4 separate regions of the Homo sapiens genome follow, and regions 1, 2 and 4 are each linked to region 3. The links come from fine-mapping of genetic effects on gene expression. A gene starts in region 3. Each other region holds a variant in brackets. All regions are shown on one strand. Distances are between the middles of the regions.

Region 1 (5,152 bases), 280 kb after region 3:
ACAACTGAGAAATTGTTAAGATATTAACAAATCCTAGTCCAGATTCAGGGATACTGGGGAGAAAACCCTGACTATTTTTTGTTTGTTTGCTTTTTAACTAACTACCTTCCTTCCACTCCAAAAACAAACCCAACTATATATTAATCATTCCCCGCTTTTGAGTATTTTATAATCAAGCCTATAATTGTTTGAAGGACAAATCAGCTCTTTTATTACACTACGTGTCACTCATTTTGTGAACAGTTGTCCCAGTTCTTAAGTACATAGTTTATAACAACCTATGTGTTTGTATAGGATGATTGTTAATTATCATCATCAAAAACATTCACATGTCTATATATATCCACACAAGTAGGCATTTACAAAGGAAATTCCAAAGACATATTCCCTTTCCTCAATCAGCCAATAATAACATTGACCCAAGACAATTAGTTTATGTGATAGATTTCTTGTTTCTCATTTTTATTCCTAAACCCCATCTCAAACCATGAAACCTCAAAAGGAATTGTGTAGGATCATATACCTTATTGGTACTCGATAAATGATGATCAACTGTTGTTATTCCATTCGTCTTCATAATTTTCTCATATTATAAAAAAGACAGTCATTTATTTATATGAGTACTTGCCTTTAATCCTGTTTTATCCTAAGCTGTAGAGTCTCTGCAGGAACCAACCACCTTAATCTTTATTAAAAACAGGGCTCATTCAGGGTAGAAGCTCAGAGAACTTATAATTTTTTTGTTTTACAGGCTCAGTGGCTCACACCTGTAATCTTTTTTTTTTTTAGATGAAGTTTCCCTCTTGTTGTCCAGGCTAGAATGCAGTGGCACGATATCGGCTCACTGCAACCTCCACCTCCCAGGTTCAAGTGATTCTCCTGCCTCAGCCTCCCAAGTAGCTGGGATTATAGGCCCGTGCCACCATGCCCAACTAATACTTTTATATTTTTAGTAGAGACGGGGGTTTCACCATGTTGGCCAGGCTGGTCTCGAACTCCTGACCTCAGGCGATCCACCCACCTCGGCCTCCCAAGTTGCTGAGAACCACCATGCCTAGCCACACCTGCAATCTCAACACTTTGGGAGGCTGAGGCAGGTGGATCACTTGAGCCTAGGAGTTCGAGACCAACCTGAGCAACATGGCAAAACTCTGTCTCTACAAAAAAATTTTTAAAAAAATTATCCAGGTGTGGTGGTCCACGCCTGTGATCTCAGCTACTTGGGAGGCTGAGGTGGGAGGATCACCTGAGCCCCAGGAGGTGGAGGCTACAGTGAGCCATGATTGTGCCACTGTACTCTAGCCTGGGCAAGAGAGTGAGACTTGTCTCAAAACAACAACAACAACCAAAAAAACTGGTTATTTACTAAAAGACCTTCATGTGAAAGTTACATAGAATACTTTTTCTCCTGGGCCAGGTGTGGTGACTCACACCTGTAATCCCAGAACTTTGAGAGGCTCAGGTGAGAGGACTGCTTGAGTTAAGGAGTTCAAGACCAGCCTGGGCAACATAGTGAAACCCCCATCTCTACTAAAAATGAAAAAGTTAGCTGGGCATAATAGTGTATGCCTATAGTCCCAGCTACACATGAGGCTGAAGATGGGAGTATTGCTTGAACCCAGGAGGTTGAGGCTGCAATGAGCTATGATAGCACCACTGCACTCCAGCCTGGGCAACAGAATGAGACCCTGTCTCAAAAATAAATAAATATATAAAGAATCCTTTTTTCTCCTAATCTCTCTCTCTCTCTCTCTCTGTGTGCTGTCTTCTCGGTTTGCAACAGTCACAGCAGCTATGTTACAACCACAGAACAAGGTTTTGCAACAGTATGGCCTTGAAATAGAATACTGCCCAGTTGAAAACTTAAGCAATCAAAATGGAATATATGAAACAATGCCTGCTAGACTTCATGTGTTGCTTCTTATTAAGGAAAGCTATTGCCTTTTTCAGGAGAATGTTACTCTTTAAGTGGCAGTTTACCCTCTTTATATCAGAGTTCTCAATTGCTGTACTATTCAGACATAGCAGTGCAACTAAGACATAATCCTGTTGTCTAAAGTGTTACTTTAGTCACTAAAATGCAGCTTCAGAAAATGTATGTGTGCAACTACTTGGTAAAAGTCATTGGTAAAAACTTACTGTAAATGTCTACGTACCTGAACTCCATCAGCATGTGAATTTAACAGCTGCAATAGTGCTCTGAAGCCAAAGCCTGTTTGTCAAAAATGTGTTAATCTCTTTCTCTCTCATTTTTTTTTTCAAGAGGCCTCATTACTCAGGCCCCAGATGACTTGCTTGGGTTTCAAAGTGTTTTCTTTTTCCTCAGTTTTGATTCTGATATGAAATTGAAATGATAAATAGCAGCATGTGGGCCACCCTGATACACTGAAAATTCTCCTTAGGCTACACATGGTTCATGATAACTGTGTAATATGCTGCCATTAGTACTGCTTATCTGGCCATCTCAAAATATTGTGTAAACACAGCATATC[C/A]ACTCAAGGCCAGCCTAATGGGAGTAACTCTTCCACATTTTCTCCATTCCTACATGCATAAGGTTATTTTTAATGTGGAAACTTGAAGAATTTTTTTAAAGTTTTTTTTTCAGCAATTGTGGGTAGATTGCCCACCTTCTTATAAATGTCACACGCCGGTGGCCAACAGTTCAGTAATAGGGCTTTCCTAACCACACACAGTGCATCCAGCCAATCATCAGTCTCATGCTCTATCAAATAGTTTTAATCGTGTGACTGGGGGCACTATTTTAGGACAATTAGGTGAAACTGAACCCTCAGAATAAGCACGATTCTGGGGCAATATAGAATACCAGTTTCCTTTGCTCTTTTTTTTTTTTTTTCTATACAAGATTTTTGGTTTCTTGACTGGTTGGAATAACTTACTTTAGGTGATCTTGGCATTGGTTGAATTTTTCTATAAATTAAGATTTGTGTTAAGTAGTTTAATGGAAAGTCATGTACCGAATAAGCTGTTATAAGCACTCTTAAATCCTTCCTTATATAGCACTTGAAGCTGTGAGGAGTTACATAAAATTGTCTTCACTTAATCTATTTTGATTCATAGTTAATGAAAAGTGATTGTTCACTTGTTACATATAACAGGACCAAAGGATGGTGAAAATTTGACCTGAAAAGTGAAGAATCTCTTGCATTTGTGACAGTGTCTATATAATACAAAGAAAAGTGAAGATTTGATGTGTACTCAGTTCTAGTTATTTTGAGAAATGGGGAAAATTAGTCTGGACTTTGTGGTCTAAATTATTTCATTTGGATTGGTCTCTTTGGGTTTGACTCTTTACATTAAAAAAAATACTATTGCTTAAAAAAAATACTATTGCTCAAAAAAATGGCAGTGTGTCCATGTTGCTGATTCTCATCAGAAAAAGAAAGCAAATGAAAGCAACTATTGAAGTCTCCAGCAAGAATAAACAACCATGTATATTCCTCTTACATGCATTACAGAGCAAACGTAGTCATTCAACTTGCAGGAAAGAATCACACATTATGATTTTCATTTTGTTTTTCCCAGATTGAGGGAAAACTTTGTTTGGAAGTTTACCTGCATTTTAAAGCCCATTAATAAAAAGGATCTGGAGTTCAACTCTTATGAAGCTCACTATGATTCTTTAGCTAAAAGTTTCTTGGCTTAGCCTTAGACTTATGATTCAGATTATTCTCGGTCTGCTGGCTTAGTTCAGAAACCAAGCACCCTGTACAACTCTGAATTAGAAGTCACAAAAAAACCCACTACTTTTCTTAACTACATGTATTTTATAAGAAGATTACGCCTTCTAAAATTAGCTCTATGATGGCAAAACAGCTGGATGAAAAGGGAAAAATTCAGAGACTTGTTTTGCTGTTTTAGACATAAAATTCAACCGCCTCTTTGATTCTTAATCTCCATATGTTTTACAGTTTTATAAGACACACAGAACTGTGGTACATATGTATTTGAGTGTGATATGTATGGATTTTTTATTTGCTGCTACATATTAGCAATCTAAAAATAGAAATACTTTTCATTTTTAAATAATGGGGTTTCGTGCATAATCTTGTAAGAATGAGAATTGAACTTTTTTTTTTTTAGCAAGTTTGCCTTTTGCCAAAAGATACTGTCAGAGACCCTGACATTGTATTTTTACCCAGTCTGAAAATCTTTGTCTTTTTTTTTTTTTTTTTTTTTTTTGAGACAGAGTCTTACTCTGTTGTCACCCAGATTAGAGTGCACTGGCATGATCTCGGCTCACTGCAACCTCTGCCTCCCGGGTTCAATTGATTCTCCCTGCCTCAGCCTCCCGAGTAGCTGGGACTACTGGCTCGCACCACCATGCCTGGCTAATTTTTTTTTTTTTTTTTTTTTGGTATTTTTAGTAGAGACGGGATTTCACCATGTTGGCCAGCCTTGTCTTGAACTCCTGACCTCAGGTCATCCATACACCTTGGCCTCCCAAAGTACTGGGATTACAGCCTGGCCAACATGGTGAAAGAAACCCTGCCTCTACTAAAAATACAAAAAAGAAAAAATTAGCTGGGCGTGGTGGCGCACGCCTGTAGTCCCAGCTACTCGGGATGCTGAGGCAGGAGAATTGCTTGAACCTGGAAGGCAGAGGTTGCAGTGAGCCAAGATTGCACCACTGCACTCCAGCCTGGGCAACAAGAGCGAAACTCTTTCTCAAAAAAAAAAAAATTTAATTTTTTTTTTTTGCAAATGCAGAGAGTATTGAAACCACTGCCACAATCAAGACATGAACACACTCCATGAAAATTCTCTTGTGCTACCTACCCCTTTGTGATTGAACCCCCACCCCACCCCCAAGCCCAGGCAATCACTTATCTGTTCTCTGCTCCTATAGTTTTACCTTTTCCAGAATGTCATATAAATGGAATAGTACAATATGTAGTCTTTTGAATCTGGCTTCTTTCACTTAGCAGAAGTTTTTGTTTTTGTTTTTGAGACAGAGTCTTGTTCGGTCGCCCAGGCTGGAGTGCAGTGGTATGAACACTGCTCACTGCAGTCTTGACTTCCTGGGCTCAAGTGATCCTCCCACCTCAGCTTCCTGTGTAGCTGGGACCACAGGCATATGCCACTGTGCTCACCTAATATTTTTATTTTATTTTTTGTAGAGATGGAGTCTCGC
Region 2 (5,152 bases), 230 kb after region 3:
GCCTGGCCAATATGGTGAAACCCCATTTCTACTAAAAATAACAAAAATTAGTCAGGTGTGGTGGCATGTGCCTGTAGTCCCAGCTACTCGGGAGGCTGAGGCAGGAGAATTGCTTGAACCCAGGAGGCGGAGGTTGCAGTGAGACAAGATCGCGCCACTGCACTCCAGCCTGGGCGACCGAGCGAGACTCCATCTGGAAAAAAAAAGGAAAAAAAATGGGACTAAAGAAGATTAAATGTTTCTACTTGTTTTATTTACATACTAATGGCGCCTATGCAGCAATTTCCTTACATATAGGATTTCTACATATAATAAAGGGCTTAACCTTTTCAGAAATGCCTCCTAGATGGACACTTAAAAAGAAAGTGCTAACAATCTGTTCTGAGAAGACTGTTAAATGCTGACTTATCACCCTCAGCTCGTTGCATATAACAAGTGCTCCAAAAAAAGAGCAGTTTTACCCAATTGACCATCTATTTATTTAAGAAAGTTGCAGAATAACAAAAGGACTTTTGTGTTTAACTTTTTTTCTCCAGTTCATTAGTCTTTGAAAACAATTTTTAAAGGGCTGCATAGTATTTTATTTTATGGATATACCATTTTTGACCTATGTGCTTACTGTAGATCATTTATTACTTCTACTTATTTTGCTAATTTTTTTTAAAGGGTACAATGAATAATCTTGATAAACCTCTGGACACAACTCTAGTATTTCTTCAGGATACATTTGTTGAAATAGAATTATTAGGTCAAAGGTTATATCAGCCTTTATTTATGTGCTTTCGTGTGTACATGAATTTTATATTATAAGCTCTAAATACACATAACCTTAAAAATTACTCTGGTAAAGTATTTTCATTCCATCATAATGAAGAAACTAAAACATCCTCCTTTTTCCTAGATGCTAACTTTATGTTATTTAAACTAAAGCATGGCCAGGCGTGGTGGCTCATGCCTGTAATCCCAGCACTTTGGAAGGCCAAGGCGGGCAGATCACTTGAGGTTAGGAGTTCGAGACCAGGCTGGCTAACACGGTGAAACCCCGTCTCTACTTAAAATACAAAAAATTAGCGGGGCATGGTGGCGCACGCCTGTAATCCCAGCTACTCAGGAGGCTGAGGCAGGGGAATTGCTTGAACCTGGGAGGCGGAGGTTGCAGTGAGCTGAGATCATGCCACTGCACTCCAGCCTGGGCAAGAGTGAGACTCTGTCACAAAATAATAAATAAATAAATAAATAAACAAACTAAAGCAGGCAAACTAAAGCAGATAGTCACTATTGCATAAAATAGTTTTATGTCTTGCTACGTAGAAAGAAGGGTAAGAGGCCGGGCAGAGTGGCTCATGCCTATAATCCCAGCACTTTTGGAGGCCGAGATGGGCAGATCACTTGAGGTCAGGAGTTCAAGACCAGCCTGGCCAACATGGTGAAACCTCGTTTCTACCAAAAATACAAAAATTAGCCAGGCATGATGGTGCATGCCTATGATCCCAGCTACTTGAGAGGCTGAGGAACAAGAATCACCTGAACGCTGTAGGCAGAGGTTGCAATGGGCCAAGATCAACGCCACTGCACTCCAGCCTGGGCAACAGAGGGAGGCTCTGTCTCAAAAAAAAAGCGGAAACAGAAGAGATATAGTACTATCATGAAAACATATATTTAATAAGTTTTTTTGAGAACTACCACCTTATCCTTGGAAATAACTAGCTATTATAAGTAAATATTTGAGATAAATTTATTCATAAAATTCCTTTTCATTAGTTCTTTTGGGTATTTTTCACAAAATTTAATAATTTGAACTCATTCACAATAGAACGCAGGAAATAACTACTAAAAGGGAACCGTATACTTCACATTGAAGATTTTGTCTCTAATAAATGGTGTTGAATTAATTGTGATCCAAGGCACATCCTGAGACATCTTTCAATGAATTATTTTGTATCATTTGTTACCCATAATTATTACATGGAGAATATATTCCAAATTATTAAGACTTCTGGAAAACTAAGGTTTCACTGTGTTTAACACAGGAAATAGCTAACTGAAACAAATCAAAATGAAAGCCAAAAACTACTTACACATTACCGAAAGTTTCTCTCTGAAAAAGATGACAGATTTCAATGTGTGAACTCCGCAGCCTCAGAGTTTGAGAAATAACTGTATTGAAAACAGTAAGAATTGGACTTAAATTCATTCCAATCAAATATTTCCCCCAATATGCCTGTGGATACTTAAAGTTCTGTTAACAGTGATAATTACTAAACTGATTGCATTTATTGTTTTCTTGTGGTTAAGAGCCAATAAGCAATTTTTAAAAACAAGATTTCAGTAAAGAATAAATACATACTTTAAAAACAAAACATGCTGAAGAGAGGCAATGAGAAAAAAAAAGAAAAAACTAGCAGATAAGGGGGAAAAAAAGAAAGCAAGAAGAATAAATAAGGGTACAAAAGAGGAAATGTGTACAGGGCAAAGAGTGTGAGAAAGAACAACATGACTATTTCTGGGGCACTGTACAGAGCCTCATTCACAGGGGAAAAATGTATACATTTAACATAATTCAAATATAGACTCAAGTAACTTCCATATAAAAAAAAGTTTCAAAGAAGTCAATACCCAAAAGTACTTTCCCTTTATTACAAATTTCAAAGATACTACAGTCAGCCTTCTGTATCCATGAGTTCCACATCCATACCATGGATTGAAAAGATGTTTTTTGTTGTTGTTAT[T/C]GTTGTTGTTTTTGAGACAAGAGTTTCGCTCTTGTTGCCCAGGCTGGAGTGCAGTGGCTCGATCTCGGCTCACCGCAACCTCCACCTCCTGGGTTCAAGAGATTCTCCTGCCTCAGCCTCCCGAGTAGCCGGGATTACAGGCATGTGCCACCATGCCCAGCTAATTTTGTATTTTCAGTAGAGACCAGGTTTCTCCATATTGGTCAGCCTGGTCTCGAACTCCCAACCTCAGGTGAGCTGCCTGCCTCGGCCTCCCAAAGTGCTGGGATTACAGGCGTGAGCCACCGCACATGGCCTGAAAAGATGTTTTTCAAAAACAATAAAAATAACAGACTGGGCTCAGTGGCTCACGTCTGTAATCCCAGCACTTTGAGAGGCCAAGGCAGGAGGATTGCTTAAGCCCAAGAGTTCAAAGCCAGCCTGGGCAATATAGTGAGGCCCCCATCTCTAAAAAAAAAAGAAGAAAGTTAGTGCCAGGCAGGGTGGCACGTGCCTGTAGTCTCAGCTACTCAGGAGACTGAGGCACGAGAATCACTTGAGCCCAGGAAGCTGAGGCTGCAGTGAGCCCTGATCACACCACTGTGCTCCAGCCTGGGTAACAGAGTAAAGCTCTATCTCCAATGAATGAATGAATGAATGATACAACAAAAAATGTAATACAAATTTAACAAAATAATTCGGTATAACTTTATATAGCATTTAATTGAATTAGGTATTATAGATAATCTAGAGGTGATTTAAAGTATACAGGAGGATGTGTGTAGATTATGTGCAAATACCACACCATTTTACGTAAGGGGCTTAAGTATATGTGGATTTTGGTATCCATCGGGTGGAGGTTGGGGGTATCCTGGAACTAATCCATGGAGGATACCAAGGGGCAAATGTACTTACATAGAATCATTTATATCAAATCTCACCAAGGAACCAAATTCTTCTGAACAAGAGAATAAGCAATGTCATATTACAGAATTCAATATGCCAGTATCTTATTTTTTTAAATTAAGTAATTTAGTAACTTGTAATTATGAGTCATTTTAAACACTAGATGGAAAGATGATGCCACCGACAAAGTCTTAAGAGTAGAGCCAGACCAACTGTATTGTACCAAGCACTATAGGTTAGCTTTAACACTGGACACATGCACACACAAAATGAAGTTCAGTAAGAGTCAATAGCTTCTGCGGGGAAACAAGCACAGAAATCATAAGCACCTCAAGAGGAAGAAACCACAGCTTTAACCAACATGGAATATCTACTAACAACCAGGAAACAGGAGCAGCTACACCCAGACACAAGATTCATCTAACTTGGTTAGGTCCTTGACATGTGTGTGTCTGTGAGAAGTGGAAGAGAAGGGGGTAAGGGCATAAACTGAGTCAAGAATTTAATAAACACCAGGTACAGTGGCTCATGTCTATAATCCCAGCACTTTGGGAGGTTGAGGCGTGTGGATCACTTGAGCTCAGGAGTTTGAGACATGGCAAAATCCTGTCTCTACAAAAAATACCAAAGTAGCCAGGTGTTGGTGGTGCAGTCCTGTAGTCCTAGCTCCTTGGTGGGGCTGAGATGGGAGGATTGCTTGAGCCCAGGAGGTCGAGGCTGCAGTGAGCCTTGTTCACACCACTGCACTCCAGCCAGCCTGAGTGACCAAGCAAGACCTTGTCTCAAAAAAAAAAAAAAAAAAAAAAAATTCGATAGTGTCTTGAAATAGAGGGTGAAAAGAATGAAAGCAAAATAATATATTCATAATCTTATTACCTTTTGAACTGCTAAATATTGTCAGGATAGATATATGTATTTTTAAAATGAGGATGCCAAAAGTTCCCTGAAAAAATTTCAGGGAGTAAATATGCAGTGGTAAATGTACTTTTCAAATATCTCTAAAATGTTATTGCTGACAATTGGCAATGAAACAATGTAAATACTGACTTGCTGAAACATTTTTTAAAATTCAACATCAGTTGTCACAAAAATTTCTAGTAAAAATACTGTATGTATATAGAAATACTTGTAAATTTTGAAAATTATTTATTTTATTGGTAGAATATCAGACTTATTTAGATGTAATTATGAATTATGGATGTGCTACAACCAATTTCAAATACATTTTCTGCTACATTGTTTCTTAATATAGTAAGAACACTGTTTTGACCATAACTCTGCCCCATTAAACTTAATATTTGTATCATTATTCTAAAAACAGGCCAGGTGTGATGGGTCATATCTATAATCCTAACACTTTGGGAGGTCAAGGCAGAAAAATCACTTGAGGCCAGGAGTTCAAGACCAGCCTGGGCAACACAGCAAGACCTCATCTGGACAAAAAAATAAAATTGGCTGGGCATGGTAGCTCACGCCTATAACCCCAGCACTCTGGGAGGCAGAGGTGGGAGGATCACTTGAGATCAGGGGTTTGAGAC
Region 3 (5,152 bases):
TTTGTGGTATACTCATATAGTCAACTACTACAGAGCAAAACCAAAAACTAAAAGAATGAATTACTGATTCACTCAGCAACATGGATAAATCTCATACACATTATGTTGATGAAAGAAACCAAGGCCCGGTGCGGTGGCTCACATCTGTAATCCCAGCACTTTGGGAGGCTGAAGCGGGTGGATCATGAGGTCAGGAGTTCAAGACTAGCCTGGCCAAGATGGTGAAACCCCGTATCTACTAAAATACAAAAATTAGGGGCCAGGCACGGTGGCTCATGCCTGTAATCCCAGCACTTTGGGAGGCTGAGGCAGGCAGATCACGAGGTCAGGAGTTAGAGACCATCCTGACCAACATGGTGAAACCCCGTCTCTACTAAAAATACAAAAATTAGCTGGGCGTGATGGCGGACAGCTGTAATCCCAGCTACTTGGGAGGCTGAGGCAGGAGAATCGCTTGAATTGGGAGGCCGAGGTTGCAGTGAGCCGAGACTGCACCACTGCACTCCATCCTGGGTGACAGAGCAAGACTCTGTCTCAAAAAAAAAAAAAAGAAAAAAGAAAAAGAAACCAGACACTGTAGGTTCCATTTATATAAAATTCAAGAACAGAACAGACAAAAAAGACTCTATGGTGATATATCAGGATAGTAATTACTGAGAGGCAAAGATATTTTAACATGAAATAACCTCTGGGATACTGGAAATATTCCAGATCTTGATCTAGGTGATAATTACATGGATATATACATATAGAAAAATTCAGCTTAAACTGAATATTTAAGATTTACCCATGTTCTATATGTAAACTACATCTCAATGTTTTTAAAAAGTGCCCCATATTGCATCTGCATTGTAGTAAACACAATACAATAAAATACCTTTATCATAAAAAATATTTTATCGTTAAAATTCAAGACTGTCAACGTCACTGCTTTCATCAACTCATTCTTGGCAGATTGCATTGGTCTCCCATTGCTTTGCCTACTACCAATTCCTCCTCCTCTCTGACAGGTCTTTCTTGCTGAGCACATTTGATTTTACTAATCTCCAGGTTAACAAACTTCCTTGGCTCCCATGTGTCTGTGGGATACAGTATAGGCACCTCAGTGAAGCAAACAAAGACTTTCCTAATGCACCCTCTGCCTTTCCAGATTCAGGGCGACCTCTCTCCTCTATGCCTTTAATCCCTAGCAGCAGAACCTCCTTCCACAACCCTCTCTCTTTTTTAAATTTTAAGACAGGGCCTCACACTGTCACCCAAGCTGGAGTGCAGTGGCGCGATCTCGCCTCCTGGGCTTAAGCAATTCTCCCACCCTAGCCTCCCGAGTAGCTCGGACCCCAGGGGCGCGCCAACCACGCCCTGCTAACTGTTGTATTTTTTGTAGAGACAGTGTATTGCCATTTTTCCCAGGCTGGTCTCAAACTCCTGGGCTCCAGCGATCCTCCCGCCTCGTCCTCCCAAAGTGCTGGGATTACACGCGTGAGACGCTGCACCTGGTCCACATCTTTTCACCTGTGAACGAAGCAAGCGCCCTGTGCTTCCACGGCCTACCTGGTTCTTACTCAGTCAAATTCCTACTCGCATTTCACCATCCCGTTCTCAAGGGTTGGCTCTCAAATGTCTGACAATGGTTCCCACGGCCCTCAGTTCCTATCATCATAAACTCTTTGTGAGCTCAGCACATTCATTATATGAAAACTCTCTATATTTTATTCTGTCCACTCTTGAGCTAAATGTTTCCAGAGAGCTAGCAGAATTTGTTTTCAGCGTTAGATCCCTCTGCTAAACAAACGGGTGCTAATAGAATCACTTTGCTAAATAAATGGGAGCTAACAGGATTGAATATGAGTTCCATTTTTGTCCCAGAGTTCTAGTTTTCATATAAATATTTCTTCCCATTAAATTCTTCTCTGCAGAAGAACTTGGGGATGAAACCCGATACAGACAAGACAGCTTAAGTAAGACATAAATGAGTGTTGTCTCTAGTTTGAGTTTCCTATTTTTTTGAGACAGTCTCCTGCACTGTCCAATAGAATAGCCACCAAAAATATGGATATTTAAGTTTAAATTAGAAGTGAATAAAGTTGGCCGGGCGCGGTGTCTCACGCCTATAATCTCAGCACTTTGGGAGGCCAAGGCGGGCGGATCACCTGAGGTCGGGAGTTCGAGACCAGCCTGACCAACATGGAGAAACCTCGTCTCTACTAAAAATACAAAATTAGCCGGTGGCGCATGCCTGTAATCCCAGCTACTCGGGAGGCTGAGGCAGGAGAATCACTTGAACCCGGGAGACAGAGGTTGCGGTGAGCCGAGATCGCGCCATTGCACTCCAGCCTGGGCAACAAGAGAGAAACTCCGTCTCAAAACAAAACAACAACAACAACAAAAAAAAAACAGAAGTGAGTAAAATTGAAAATTCGGTTATTCAGTTCAAGTACTCAAAAGCCTCATGTGGCTAGTGGCTACCGTATTAAAGAGCGCAATGTGCAATATTTCCATCATCACCTACAGTTTTATTGGGCAGCGCTGCCCTGGTCTTTATTTTCCCTTGTTGGAACGCTCTTCCACGCTGCTCCCACACCATGTCCCCTATCACCATTATTATCCTCATTTCATCTGTAATTACTTGCATCTTTTAATAGGCTGGGAGTTCTAAGACAGAAGGGACTGTGTCTCACTTCTGTTGTTCCAGTGTTTAGCTTTGAAACCCAGGCACACAGTAGGTACTCAGTAAACAGAATGCGAAGGACCGTCCAGAGACACCAGTCCCAAACCCTTTTCCAGGCTGATCGGTCCCCCATAAGTCTCCAGCCTTTTTTATTTTAAAGCTTATTTTAAAGCATGTCCCTGAAGACGAGTGGGGAGAGCAGACCACCCGCTGATTCCAATTCCCTAGGCGGCCGCGGCGAGCTGCGGCGTCTCTGTGCCCCGGCCTGCCCCTATCCCGCCTGCGCCCCGCCCCCGCCCGGCTCGCGCCAAGGCCCGCTGCTGGCGCCGCCGCCATCCCGGCGCGTCACTGCGCAGGCGCGGCCCGCGAGCGTGGGGTATCTCGAGGTGCCGGGTTGCAGGCGCTCAGGAGCGCTAGGGTTTGAGGCCTGCTTTCTGCTCGCGCCAGCAGAGCACTACCTGAGGCAGCGAGGCGCAGCGAGCCTAGCCTCCCCGCGCCCTGGGCAGTGTGGCCATGGAGAATCAGGTGTTGACGCCGCATGTCTACTGGGCTCAGCGACACCGCGAGCTATATCTGCGCGTGGAGCTGAGTGACGTACAGGTAAAGGCCGGGTCGGGCGGCGGGAAGCGCGCGGGATCGCGGCTCCGGGTACCCGCCAGGACCCCTGCCCCCTTTGTCCGCGTGCGCGCCGGAGAGCCTGCAGTGCGCCAACAAGGTCGGCGACGCGGTGCGCTTACGGCGTGCTGGCGCTTTTCGAGGCTCATCTGCAGATCTCGGGCCGGGGGCACAACCCCCCGAGGGCTGCAGGAACCTTCGGGTCCCCAGAGAGCTCGGCCTGGGCCTCTCAGGCTACCCCGGGCCTCTTCTTTGTTCGCAGTCGGCGGCCTTCATGGAGCCCAGGCCCGGCCCTGGCTGCCTGGCCGTCGGGGTTCGAGTTGGCTGGGGCCCTTCGAGATGTGGGATGAGCTTGTTGGGTCAGGGGTGCGGTTGTGACAGCGGCTTGCTGGGCCGTAGCTGAATGCCTGCCGCTGGCCTGAGAGGTCCAGCCAGGCCCCTCGGACGTTACTGAGGCTGGGCGCTGCCGGAGGTGGGGGAGGGGGAGGGGTGGGGGGCCACACCCACCTCGCAACCGTTCAGTGATGGAAATCATTCTCATTACTTTTAATTTTAAAATTCACAAGAGCTGGAGGAAGTGATTTCCCCCTCTGTTCTGAAGGTTGTGAGCTCAGGTTTGCTGAGTTGCACAGAGAACTTAAAAAGTTCTTAAGTTACATTAAGCATTTCTGTTTGAGCTCCTTGGCCCTTAATGTAAGCAAGCTGAAGGCACGTAGTAGTGGAGACTCCAGGACCTGTGTATCCTCATGTCTCTGTCCAAACTAAAGATTCTGGGCTTTGAGAAACTGGAATTTTCATTCTGGAAGGTTCTTTCTTTCTTTCTTTCTTTTTTTTTCTTTTCTTTTTTTTGAGACGGTGTTTCGCTCTTGTCGCCCAGGCTGGAGTGCAATGGCGCGATCTCGGCTCACCGCAACCTCTGCCTCCCGGGTTCAAGGGATTCTCCTGCCTCAGCCTCCCGAGTAGCTGGGATTATAGACGCGTGCCACCATGCCCGGCTAATTTTTGTATTTTTAGTAGCGACAGGGTTTCACCATGTTGGCCAGGCTGGTCTCGAACTTCTGACCTCAGGTGATCCACCCGTCTCGGCCTCCCAAAGTGCTGGGATTACAGGCATGAGCCACCGCGCCCAGCCTCTGGAAGGTTCTTTCTACAGTCATTCTTATTGGAAACTTCTCCTTAACATCTATGGCACTTTGTCATCTCTTTCACTCCATTTAACTCTCTCTGCCTCTGAACAGGCATCTGCTTGGATCACCCGTGGATCCGGTAAAATGTAGGTGCTTTCTGAGTGTCGACTTGAATTTATTGAATTTAATATAATCTTTGCTTCTGGAATATAAACAGTTTTCCTGTTGAAAGATGAAGACAGTAGTGGCCAGAATGCCTTTAAATAGGCTATGACATTGCATGGTGTGTCGTTTAATGTGTTCATCCAGACTGAGGCTATACTTTTGGGTCAGAGTATGAGTAAATGTTCTGTGCTGTCTCCCTCTACTGCTCCACGGTGGTTTAATAGAATAGGAAAAAACAAACAAAATCTTTTGTAGATGGGGATCAAAGTCCCCGTCTAGAGAGGGTTCTTCCAGCAGTCAATAAAAAAGTACGGAACAGGCCAGGTGCTGTGGCTCACGCCTGTAATGCCAACACTTTGGGAGGCCGAGGCGGGAGGATCACCTGAGGTCAGGAGTTCGACACCAGCCTGACCAACATGGAGAAACCCCATCTCTACTAAAAATACAAAATTAGCCGGGCATGGTGGTGCATGCGTGTAATTCACTATGTTGGCTACTCGGGAGGCTGAGGCAGGAGAATTGCTTGAACCCGGGAGGCGGAGGTTGCGGTGAGCTGAGATGGTGCCATTGCACTCCA
Region 4 (5,136 bases), 51 kb after region 3:
TACAAACCCCTTTATTGCTGTCTGAGAAAGTGAAAGATTGTGTATTTCTATTAAAACATTTACAATCAAAATTCTAATGACTGTGCTTAAAGATAATTTAGTCTAATGGTTCTCTGTTAGTGATAAAGACCTTTGTTCAGGCAAAATATTATGTAGCAGTTCAGCATGTTAAACCAAAAACAGTTGCTCTGGTTGAAGCCTGAGAGTTACATGGAAGGTGGTGCAAATGAAAAACACTGATGATGCAGACAAAGCCTTGAGAAGTTGCCCAAAGTCATAAAGCTAGCTGATAAATTGGAACCATAATTAACTTTGGAATCGGATCGGTGATCTGTCAGGATTACCTAGCCAGAACCTTGCTTAGGCAATGAGGCCTAATCAGTGTCAGAAATAAGGAAACCTCATGATTTATGAATCTATGCCACTTAGAAAGTTGAAATTATATTAAAGTGATAAGACAGACCAAAAGCAAACGACCTTTAGTTTCATAGTGAAACCATTTTCTAGAAAATCAAATATTTTATTTTCATTAAAAAAAAACCTTGAATAATAGGAATCATTTTACACATTAATGGTTGCTCTTTAAAAGTTAGAATCTCAAGAGATACCAAAAGCACTTAAGAGTTACCACCACATTTTGCCCAAGTTCTAAGGAAAGTTCTGAAACTTAGTGGTGGTGTGTTTGTACTCAGCAAGCTCCAGACAGTCTGAGTTGCTCATTCCATGAACAGAAGCTTGAAAATGCCCTTACAGTTGAGATATAAACGAGGGAAGAGGTGAAGCTTTCAGGAAGCCAGAGAGCCCCTGCCGGTCAGGTTTCCTGAGGAAGGCAGGGGTGCTCTATGCTCATCAGTCATTCAAGCTTCTCAGGAAATGTGCCCATCATGGGAACAGCAGCTATCTTCCAAGCTTAAAAATTATGAATCCCAGGAAGTTAAAGCCCAACCAGCCAACCACCTTCACATCCTTCTCATACTAGTAGAGTCATTCAAAACAGCAAGTGGTGCTTCTGAGGCAGCCTCAGGAAGGTCTTTGGGTGGCTATTCTAGAGGTGAACATACTGGAAAGGTTTTTACCTAAAGCATTTTCAGTTGAAATGAAAAAAGAAGGAAAGCTCCAAAAGTCAGTTTCAAATTCTTTCAGTGCTGCTCCCAGAGAAGTCCGTGTGCAAAGGTGTGATGTTCTGGTCATAAGCGGCATACTCAGAGGTGCCGGTACTGGCCAGCTTGAGCTGCTGGGCAGCATGGGTCAGCTGGAATGCAGCATCAGGGTGGGCTGTCTCAGGCAGCAGTGTGCATTCCCTTTCCAGCATGTCAGCCACCCCTTTCAGCAGGTCCAGGAAACCAAAGGCTAGAGCGGCCTTTCGCAAACGGTTCAGCTCCTGAAACAAGACAGAAAATCACCAATGCTCCTGAAATGTGTTCCTAACACATACTTTCTAAGTGCTCAGCTTAGCATAAGTTCTCCTTGACTGAACTTTAGGGAGCAATTTTATATGAGAACAAATGTTTATTTAGGGATGCCAGTAACAAGAATGTGATGGTTTTACTGGGAAGTGGTTCCTCTGCAGGTGACCAGAAGCAGGCTAAGGAAGACAGCTGAATGAAACAACGTCATCATCACAGTTAATGAGCATTTATGCCACATGTGGTAGTCAGCACTTTGCATCCATCATTTCGTTACTCCTAACTTTAAGGAGGAGTACTTTTCCCCTGTTATTTAGGTATGGAAAAGACTTGCCCTCAATCTGAAAACGCTCTTAACCCTCTGATGCCACTGTGGTGGGGCCTCAGGCTAAGACAATAAACAGGCTCAAGAGGAGGCCCTGGAGGAGTCAGAGTGGAAAGACCAACAAAAAGAAAGGCTGGTTACTGATAGAAGCAGAGAAATATGAAGTGCCCCAACAACCCCTTAGTGGAGTGGTCTGGGCAAGTTATATAGCCTCTCTGGGTCTCAAAGGCCTCATTTATAAAATGAGGAGAATAACCCCTTCCTTACCCACTGCAGAGGCTGAAGCACTTTCCCTAGGCCCTTTTGAGCTCTAATATGTAGCATTATATAAAACCAGAAAAGAGAAATGGGCTCTCTGACCATCTTTCTACTATCATCTGTTAAAAAAGTGGAAAGTTAAGAAGAAGGCCAAACAAGTGTGTCATCATGAGTAAATAGCTGATGACTGTAGGAAGCTCTGCAGGGAGGATGGACTGTGTGGATTATGGGCTTCA[GT/G]TTAGGGAGGGGCCTGGCTGGCTAAGAAGCTCTCCAGTTGAACTCTTGATTAAAGCTGTTTTATTTCACCAGCTTACTACATAATTAAGTTTGAAGACAACAGTGACATAAAGGTAATGAGATAACACCCAGACAAAGTAGCATGTATCTTCTCTGGTTAAGATGCTAGCCTAAGGCTGGCTGTGTGTGCCACATTTTAGAATTAGAAAGCTAAGACACAAATGACATACTTTATGCTGCACTTAATTTAATTCCAGCCAAACACCAGAACAATAGGGGAGAATCAAGGAGCAAACCTAAATGTTCCCCACTCTACCCCACCCCCTGTAACTTAACAGTCTCTTCACCAATCGTTCTGGATTAGCTGCATATGATTCTGCAGGGCTATCTCCTCTGCAATTCATAAATGTGTAATGTTAGATATCATTCCTAGAAGCAGAGTCTCTGGTGCAATAAAAATGTTCTGGGGTGGCCAGGTGGGGTGGCTCACGCTTGTAATCCCAGCACTTTGGGTGGATCACCTGAGGTCAGGAGTTCGGGACCAGCCTGGCCAACACAGCGAAACCCCATCTCTACTGAAAATACAAAAATTAGGCCGGGAACGGTGGCTCACGCCTGTAATCCCAGCACTTTGGGAGGCCGAGGCGAGCGGATTACCTGTGGTCAGGAGTTCAAGACCAGCCTGGCCAACATGGTGAAACCCCGTCTCTACTAAAAATACAAAAATTAGCCGGGCATGGTGGCACACACCTGTAATCCCAGCTACTTGGGAGGCTGAGGCAGGAGAATTGTTTGAGCCCGCGAGGCGGAGGTTGCAGTGAGCTGAGATCGTGCTACTGCACTCCAGCCTGGCCGACAGAGTGAGACTCTGTCTCAAAAACAAAAAAACAAAAATTAGCTGGGCGTGGTGGCACGTGCCTGTAGTACTAGCTACTCAGGAGGCTGAGGCAGGAGAATCACTTGAACCTGTGAGGCAGAGGTTGCAGTGACCCAAGATTGCACCACGACACTCCAGCCTGGGCAACAGAGTGTGACTCCATCTCAAAAAAAAAAAAAAAAAAAAAAAAAAAAAAGAATGTTCTGGGCAATTCCCCATCCAGGAAGCCACATACATTGGTTGCCTGGGGTTGGCCTGGATACCCATATAGGAGTGATGAGGAGAGTTCAGGGCTATGACCCACAGGTCCTCTAAGCTGCTTCCATCAGTCATTCATTCACAGCAGCCCCAACACAGAAAAACCTTCTGCCTGTACAGAATTAGGCCATTTAAATTCTTCCAATTCTTGGATTTTAGGGAAGGAACAGACCTATCACTTTTACTGAGTTTATTTGAAAAAACTGAGGCACAAGTCATACATCTCTAACCCCTGCCCATATTCACACTGCCATCTCACAGTTTTACTGTCGTGAACCATATATTTTGGGCACATCCTCTTCTGTCTGTCTCACCTTATAGAATGTCTGTGTTTTTTCAGGTAGTTTCCTTGCATTTCTTAAAATCTTCTGTACATCTGTCTATTAAGGGTAAAAAAAAAAATCCAACATTAGAATTCTGTGGTAAAAAAGGGAAATAATATAAAAGAATGGATCTAAATGTTTAAAGAGATGAAAATGAGAACACAGCTACAATGTCAAGATGAGGATCCCTTCTGAGTTAATGTCAGTTCAACATTAGTAAAGCACTCCCTCCTTCAAAAGGCTTGACAGTAAAATAAATCCCCTGACAGAAACGAACTTGCCTCATAAAAATGTACCCAGTAAACCCATACATCTATTGCCAGGGACTTTTTTGCAAAGACGATTCAATGGGGAAAAAATAGTCTCTTCAACATTTGGTGCTGAGACAACTGGATATCCACAAGCAAAAGAATAAAGTTGGACCCTTACATCATACCATATACAAAAAACTAACTCAAAATGGATCAGAGACCTACATGTAAAAGCTAAAACTATAAAACTCTTAGAAAAAAACGGGCCAGGTGCAGTGGTGTGCCCCTGTAATCCTAGCTACTCAGGAGGATTGCTTGAGGCCAGAAGTTTGAGACCAGCCTGGGCAACGTAGTGAGATGTGTTTCTCAAGAGAAAAAGAGAAGAAGAAAAAGAAAACACAGCGGGTAAATCTTTATGACTTTGGATTTGGCAATGATCTCTTAGTTAAGACAGCACAAAGCACAAACAACAAAAGCAAGAGACAAAATTTGACTTCTTCAAAACCAAAAACTTTGTGTATCAAAGGACACTATAAAGAGAGTGAAAAGATAACTCACAAAATGGGAGAAGATATTTGCAAATCATGTATCTGCTAAGGATCATAATATCCAGAATATATAAAAAACCCAACAACAAAAAGACAAACCCAATTAAAAAATGGACAAAGAACTTGAGTATATACTTCTCCAAATAATATACACAAATGGCCAATAAGCACAGGAAAAGATGCACATTATTGGTCATCAAGGAAATGCAAAAACAAAGACATACCACTTCACACCTACTATGATAGCTATATGATAATAATAATAAAAGGAAAACAATGAGTATTGGTAGGAACGTGGAGAAACTAGAACACTTATACACTGCTAGCAGAAATGTAAAATGGTGTGGCTGCTGTGAGAGAGTGTGGCAATTCCTCAGTAAGTTAAAGAGAATTGCTGTCTGACCCAGCAATCCCATTCCCATTAAAATATATACCCAAGAGTATTGAAAACAAATGTTCAGACCAAAACTTATACATGAATGTTTGTAACAGCATTATCCACAATAGCCAAAAGGTAACCCTAATGTCCGTCAACTGAGGGATAATCAAAATGTGACATATACATATAGACATATGGAATATTAGCCATAAAAAGGAATGAAGTACTGATACATACTACAACATGAATAAACCTTGAAAACATCATGCTAAGT

Which allele goes with the higher level. Alleles are on the strand shown, and positions count from the first base shown. SD is a standard deviation of normalised expression in the study named. Not every link is listed here.
For the expression in lymphoblastoid cells of the gene that starts at base 3,013 in region 3, C is the low allele of the variant in region 1 and A is the other (small effect, 0.40 SD a copy in GTEx).

Evidence for each region. PIP is the estimated chance that this variant, and not a neighbour inherited with it, causes the effect. A credible set is the group of variants that fine-mapping cannot tell apart.
Region 1: its variant is the best candidate, but not a certain one, in a credible set for the expression of HACD3 in lymphoblastoid cells (GTEx, PIP 0.62).
Region 2: its variant is the best candidate, but not a certain one, in a credible set for the expression of HACD3 in lymphoblastoid cells (GEUVADIS, PIP 0.65).
Region 4: its variant is the best candidate, but not a certain one, in a credible set for the expression of HACD3 in lung (TOPMed, PIP 0.76).

The regions. Positions count from the first base shown.
Region 1 is chr15:65,802,881-65,808,032 of GRCh38, forward strand. All of the region lies in intron 1 of LOC105370866 (a long non-coding RNA gene), which reads left to right. Among named protein-coding and RNA genes, the nearest start is that of DENND4A, 13 kb to the left of the region's middle. The variant C/A (reference allele first, on the strand shown) is at 2,493.
Region 2 is chr15:65,759,282-65,764,433 of GRCh38, forward strand. It overlaps DENND4A (DENN domain containing 4A), which reads right to left. Exons shown (of 33, transcript NM_001320835.1): 2 at 2,079-2,157. Among named protein-coding and RNA genes, the nearest start is that of DENND4A, 30 kb to the right of the region's middle. The variant T/C (reference allele first, on the strand shown) is at 2,730.
Region 3 is chr15:65,527,451-65,532,602 of GRCh38, forward strand. It overlaps HACD3 (3-hydroxyacyl-CoA dehydratase 3), which reads left to right and starts at 3,013. Exons shown (of 11, transcript NM_016395.4): 1 at 3,013-3,268. The coding sequence starts at 3,182. RefSeq lists an enhancer at 1,337-1,837 and a silencer at 2,876-3,095.
Region 4 is chr15:65,578,279-65,583,414 of GRCh38, forward strand. It overlaps INTS14 (integrator complex subunit 14), which reads right to left. Exons shown (of 12, transcript NM_001394796.1): 11 at 3,676-3,741; 12 at 479-1,381. The coding sequence ends at 1,130. HACD3 (3-hydroxyacyl-CoA dehydratase 3) reads left to right here. Exons shown (of 11, transcript NM_016395.4): 11 at 1-71. Among named protein-coding and RNA genes, the nearest start is that of INTS14, 30 kb to the right of the region's middle. RefSeq lists an enhancer at 596-1,174 and a silencer at 733-1,027. The variant GT/G (reference allele first, on the strand shown) is at 2,226.